Homo sapiens: one gene and its partner. The protein of the gene in region 1 purifies or fractionates together with the protein of each later gene. This does not show direct contact. Each region holds a gene or a part of one and is shown in the gene's direction. Other genes may lie near its edges.

Evidence for each region.
Region 2: the proteins of ZSCAN31 (region 1) and DHX57 purify together in Homo sapiens (affinity purification with mass spectrometry; 2 studies listed by BioGRID and IntAct, with this or other methods). This does not show direct contact.

Annotation. Positions count from the first base shown.
Region 1 is NC_000006.12:28,329,649-28,333,148, reverse strand, and holds part of ZSCAN31 (zinc finger and SCAN domain-containing protein 31), read left to right. Parts: intron 1-755; exon of another isoform or gene 756-864; intron 865-3,370; 5' UTR 3,371-3,465; coding exon 3,466-3,500.
Region 2 is NC_000002.12:38,851,935-38,855,434, reverse strand, and holds part of DHX57 (putative ATP-dependent RNA helicase DHX57), read left to right. Parts: intron 1-182; coding exon 183-378; intron 379-1,256; coding exon 1,257-1,381; intron 1,382-1,469; exon of another isoform or gene 1,470-1,554; intron 1,555-3,500. UniProt on the Homo sapiens protein: Probable ATP-binding RNA helicase.

The DNA of each region.
Region 1 (3,500 bases):
TGAAACAGTGAGCCTGGTTCCCTACAACCTGAGACACACCACATTTAATCCCCCAGGAGTTGAATTCTAGGATGTCTTTGACTGTTTCTGCAGTCAAGTCATCAACTCCACTAACTACTCTGTGTTTGTGTTTCTGGTCCACTGAGATTTTTGTCTTGTATTTGTAGCTGGCCATGTCTTTCTCTTTATCCCCTTTTATATATCATCTCCCAATGCCAAATGTTTGGAGTCAATTTGGTAATTAATCATAAATTGGCCTGTTTCATATCACCCTGGAAATCTAAATCCAATCTTTAATGTTGCTTTTGAGCTGTTGTTGGGATGTTCAGGGGGACACCCCTGGTGGTATCTAGAGATGGGCTTCAGTACACAAATGGGAGGTCACCACTGGTCACAGTCTGTCCTGGATTTTCTTGAATATTTCTTCTAGTATTTTCAACTGTCTACTGACTATTAACATATGAAGTCAATATTTTATTTTGTTGGGTCTATTTCCTCTATGAAATGAAGATATTCAATTTACTAATACTACTTTACTAATAATACCTGCTCATTGATATTTATGTAATGATTGCTATGGGCCAGGTACTGCGCTAAGCTTTTTATATGCGTTACCTTGTATAATCATAACACCTATAAGAGGAGTACTATGGTCATTAACACTTAGAGAGGCCACAGGATTTGAACGTTATTCACTGTACTGCAGTGCTTCAGTAAAGATCATTTTAAATAGTTTATTCCATTTAATTTGTCAGATGTCTATCAAGTATTTGTTCCCTGCTAGGATATCAGATGACACCAAATTTGCATTTAATCGAATAAATCAGGTAAACAAAACATTGAAGATGCGTTCATAATTTTGTGGTAAGTCCAGACTTCTAAGTCTTCTAGGCATTTTAAAAATAAGAAGTGTCTGTAATCTGTAGCAGTTTGGGAGAGGAGATAGGAAGAGATGGGAGGACTGGCTGGGAACACAGGGTAATGCATATACATCCTGGGAACAGGGGTGGTTTGGGGGACAAGAAGAAAGAGTGTATTTTCCCTTCTGTGTTCCTTTCCCTGTCCTTACCATGGCTTGATGAAGTGAAAGGGGATATAGGAGGGGAGAATATATTTATTTGCCCAGAAAACATTTATGGAGCACTGACAGTGGGCCAGGCACTGTGCTATGCATTAAGGATAAAGACAGTTCATGGTGGCATAAGACCAGGAGGTAAATCCTAAGCACCAATTATGGGGAGAAGAATACAATTGATGGAGAAATACTCCACCTGTGGCTTTGGGTATGTGAGAGATTGCCTGTAGTGATCAAGAAAACAAAAAACAAAAAAAGCCAACTGTATCTCCATGGTTTCTCAATAGCATTAAAGTGCAGAACGCATATTTGCAGAACAATTTTTGCCTATAAACCTAAGGCCATGAGAAGCTACATGTTTAATAATAATGGAATCCAATACAAATTCATAATTAGAAATTTTCAGACTTTCAGTCTTCTGCACTGAAGACTCAACAAACCAAATTACCAGATGCTACAGTAAGGAGTAAAAAGATATACATTTGGCATTAGACATTGACAAAGAATAAATGCCATGATCTTTGTAACTCTTCAAATTCTCAATTCTGTAACATCATTTTATGTGAATATTTTATTAAGGTCTGTCTTTCCCATGGTAAATACCATAAAGTTAGGGACCGTTCCTTTATTCCAGACACCTAGTAGACACATAATATTGGAATGAATTGAATAAATGCATTTTCACCCAATAAAGTGTAACTGAAAAACTTCCAAGTGATCTCAGACCTTAATAATTCAATTAGCATTGGGCAAAAATCATATAAAACTTAAATTACACCACTAAAGTCAACATTGTATCAGTTTAACTACCATTAAACTTCCCAACTTAAATGGCCACAACCTTGCAACATATTCTTACCATTTCCATCCTGAATCTTAATATTTTCTATAAATACAGATCTAACACCATAACAATGAAATAAAAGCCTTGATGCCTCTCAGTTTTCCATAAAGTCAAGTCTAACGTCTAAGCCTAGAGTTGAAGGCCATTTTCTATCCCATATAATGCATCTTTCTAACCTCATCTCCTCTCACAATTTTACCCACAACCCATATTCTATAGTTCAGCTTTGCCTGTCTTTATCGCCATTGTGTGTGCTCTTAAATACCTTTCCTCATGTTGTTTGCTTGATTTATGATGCCGGATACCTTCCTTTCTCTGCCTGATAAATTCCTTTTCATGATTTTAGTCTAATTCAAGTGTACTTTCCCCTAAGTCACATTCTTTCAATATTCCATACCCTGTCAGAAATTCTTTTTTCTATTCTTTACTCCCTGAATATTCTGGTGAGGCCTCTATTATAGCATTCATCATCTGATATTATAGCTGGTTTTATATATCCTGTTCTCCTCCTAGAGCTACCATATACACATATTGCCCAGGCTTTTAAATCACTTCTACAGACTGAATATCCCTTATCCAAAATGCTTGGGACCAGAGTGTTTTGGATTTCAGATTTTTCTGGATTTTGGAATATTTGCATTATACTTAACAGTTGAACATCCCTAATCTGAAAATCTGAAATATGAAATGCTCCAATGAGCATTTCCTTTTAGCATCATGTCTGTGCTCAAAAAGTAAATATCTCTTGCTTTTGTAATTCCACAGTTACCTAATTCTGCTTCCCAGAGGTTCACCCTTCTATATCAGTTATCTATTGCCATAATAATGTGGTATAATAAATAGCCACAAAACGTTGGTGGCATATAGTGATAAACTTATGTTTAGCACATAAGTATATGGGGCACAGCTTACTTGGGGTGGGCAGGCCCTATTTATACATCTGCATTCAACAGCTCTGCAGACCTCAGGCTAGGCCTGCTCACATGTCTGGCAGTTAGCTGGCTGTCAGCTAATCTAGGATGGTCTCATCTGCTCCACTGGGGTGATCTGGCTCTGTCCTGCATGTCTCTTATCATCTGAAAGATATCCTTCTTCTGGCAGTTTCAGAGGGCAAAAGTAAGCAAACCCAGTCACATAAGTACTGTTCAAACCTCTCCATGCATCACATTTGCTAATATCATTGGCAAAATCAAGTCATATTGTTGAATCCAGTGTCACAATGGAAGGGCACTGCAAAATATTAATACATGGCTATAGGGAAGGGGGAAGAATTGAGGCCATTAACATACTCTGCCATAGCCTTTTCCCAGTTGCTAAACATATGTAAGTCAGTAACTATATATACATTTTATTAACATAAATGATAGAATACCATTCATGTTTCCATACTTTGCTTTTTTCCCCACTACTTTATGATTTATTTCCATTAATATATAATGCTCTATCATCAGGTGTCTTCTCCTAAGGAAGATTAAATCAGAAAATTTTAAATCACAGTTATCCCTTTACTTAAAGCCAGAGTAAGCCTTCCAAATTAACCCCAGGAATGGCTTCAACAGAGGAACAGTACGATCTTAAGAT
Region 2 (3,500 bases), on another chromosome or scaffold:
TGCAAATTCCTAGAATTTCCCACCTCTTGGTAATAAGTCAGGAGGTTGTTTTAGAAAATACCTGAAACTGAACAACTTTTATTCTAATTAGCTTTATCACTTTTCTCATTCCATATGATTGCTTCTTTAGTTAACTAGCCCTTGAAAACTTCATTTTAGGACTTATTTGTTTTAATGTACAGATGTGGGAAAACCACACAAATTCCGCAGTTTATTCTGGATGATTCTCTGAATGGACCACCTGAGAAGGTAGCCAACATCATCTGTACCCAACCCCGACGAATCTCTGCAATCTCTGTTGCTGAACGCGTTGCTAAAGAAAGAGCAGAGAGGGTGGGTCTGACCGTGGGATACCAGATTCGGTTAGAAAGTGTCAAGGTTTGTATGCTCTGCTTATTTCCTGGTAACAGAAATTTATGGTTTTTAGGTATAAAAAGTTTTGGGGGTTAGGAGATTCATGGGCAATTTGGGATATATACTTTCAGGTTATTTTTAAATTAATGATTACCTTTGGTAATCATTTATTTAAATATTTAGAAATATTTAGAAATATTTTGGTATAAGAACTCTTATGGCCAGGCGCGGTGGCTCACACCTGTAATCCCAGCACTTTGAGAGGCCAAGGCAGGTGGATCACCTGAGGTCGGGAGTTCGAGACCAGCCTGACCAACATGGAGAAACCCCATCTCTACTAAAAATACAAAAATTAGCCAAGTGTGGTGGCACACGCCTGTAATCCCAGCTACTCGGGAGTCTGAGGCAGGAGAATCCCTTGAACCTGGGAGACGGAAGTTGCAATGAGCCGAGATTGCGCCATTGCACTCCAGCCTGGGCAAAAAGAGCAAAATTCTGTCTCAAAAAAAAAAAAAAAAAAAAAACTCTTATTTGGTTGTACTAAATTTCCTCTGTAAAGCTTTTTATTTTTTATTGGCAGAAGTCATCTAGTAAAGACTGTTTTGCTCTTGAACTTGGGACATAATCCATTTAACCAAATAAGGAGCAGACAGATTGAGAACTGTTTTCATTATTCACTGTTTTTTAATGCTTTTTATGAAAATCTTAACATTGTGATATGAAGTAGAAAGGCTTTTATTACTGTCCCTGGCAAGAAACTATGTTTAGTATGGTTTCCTATTAAATGGAACTGCTGGTGTTTCCAATATTTTTTATCACTATCCATTCAAAATGGCTTTCCAGTAATGTTTCCTTTTTTTGAAAATTTTATTAATGATTTATATTGCCCTTTCATGTGTAAGTCCTCAGCCACCAGACTGTTATACTGCACCACGGGAGTGCTGCTGAGAAGGCTAGAAGGAGATACAGCTCTACAAGGAGTTTCCCATATCATTGTTGATGAAGTTCATGAGAGGACAGAAGAAAGGTAAAACAAAGACTTTCCCAGGGAACACACACTCACCTGAATTGAAGGCATGGCAGAAAAAATTGTTTTCTAGTTCCAATTCAGTTTCATGCAGCTAGTAATGGTAATTTGCCACAAGGAAGGCCTATGTTAGAGAAGAGCAACTGCTTTCTTGATCTCCAGGGTCTGTAACACTAAAAAGGACAGCACATGCTCATCACTTATTAGATGGAGTCATCCTGTTAGGTTAGAAGGTATACTTCACACCATCCTGGGCATTATGCTAAGTTGAATACCGTACTTAGTAGAAATAACAGATGTCATGCATGCTGTGGCTGAATGTATCTTCTTCCTTGTTTATTTGGCCATTCAGTCCTGACATTGATTCATGTATTTATTGAGCCTGCATTAAATGCCAAGTGATATATTAGTTGCTGGGGATACAGTGATGAACAAGCATGTATGGCTCCCCCTCATCTCTTACAGTCCAGTAGAAAAAACAAATAATGAACAAGTAAACAAGCAAATGATTGTAAATTGGAATAAGCACTATGAAGGAATAAACGGCATGCTGTGTTTGGAGGGAGAGACCCATAGATGCTCAAAGATCATATCTCTGTAAGATGACAATTTAAATTCAAAACTGAAGTATGGCCGGGCGCAATGGCTCACACCCATAATCCCTGCACTTTGGGAGGCCAAGGTGGGAGGATCGCTTGAGCTCAGGAGTTGGAGCCCCACCTGGGCAACATAGTGAGACCATGTTTCCACGAAAAGTAAAAAAAACAAAACAAAACAAAAAATAGCCAGTAGTCATTCTACTGGGGATACAGAAAAAAAAAAAAAAAAATTAGCCAGGCGTGATGCCTCACACCTAAGGTCCCAGCTACTCAGGAGGCTGAGGCAGGAGAATCAATTGAGCCCCCAGGAGGTTGAGGCTGCAGTGAGCTGTGATAGCACCACTGCACTCCACCCTGGTCAAGAAAGCAAGACCCTGTCTCAAAAGAAAAGAAAAGAAAAGAAAAGAAAACTGAAATATGAGAAGGAATCCCAGGTGACAAACGGGGGTAAGGAAAGTATGTTTGAAGATTTTGCAGTGGGAAGGGGCTTTGTGAGTCCAGAAACAAGGAAGCCCAGTGCACCTGCTGTGTAGCAGCAAAGGGGAAAGTAGCACAGGGAAGAAGCAGCAGGAGCCAGACCTTCCAGGGCCTTAAGCACCACGAATAATAAAGCATGTGGATTTTATCTTATGAAATTAGAAGTCATTAAAGGGTGAGGCATAAAATAAAAATTCTTGCCAGACACAGTGGTGCATGCTTGTAGTTCCAGCTACTGAGGAGGCTGAGGCAGGAGGATTGCTTAAGTTCAGGAGTGCAAGGCTGTGGTGTGCTATGATTGCACCTGTGAAGAGCCACTTCAGCCTGGGAAATATCATGAGACTCCATCTCTAAAAAAAAAAAAAAAAAAAATTAAAAGTCTGAATATTTTAAGTACTGAGGAGGGCCAGGAAGATGGATGGCATTAATCATAGTTTGTCATGTGGATCATGCCCTAGAGCAGTAAAAGAAAACTAGTGGGAAAAAAGAGAAAGTCCTGTGAAAATTATGAAGTTTTCCCACAAAGTATTGTACCACAATAAATATCTTGAGAAGAAGAAAAAAAGTCTAAGTAAACTTGGTGGACTGATAGGAAAGCAGAAAATAGCTAAAAGCAAAACATTAAAAAAAAAAAAAAAAAAGGATTGGTGGCAGGCGCCTGTAGTCCCAGCTACTCGGGAGGCTGAGGCAGGAGAATCGCTTGAACCTGGGAGGCGGAGGTTGCCGTGAGCCGAGATTGCGCCACTGTACTCCAGGCTGGGCGACAGAGCAAGAAAAAAAAAAAAGGAATTGAACAGAGAAGGCATATAACCAGAAGAACTATTAGAAGAAATAATACATTACTATTATTAGTAAATAAGAAATATGAAGTAATTAGAAACTAAAGAAAGACTTTTAGATAAAAAGAATGAACCAAAAGAAAAAGAAATAATTCCTAGAACAAGACAATAATAAATATTAAATTACTATACAGAAAACATTGGAAATCTCTAAGGGGCAAATAATCTTTTTGTAGAAACTCCAGAAAACAATGGGAAAAAAAA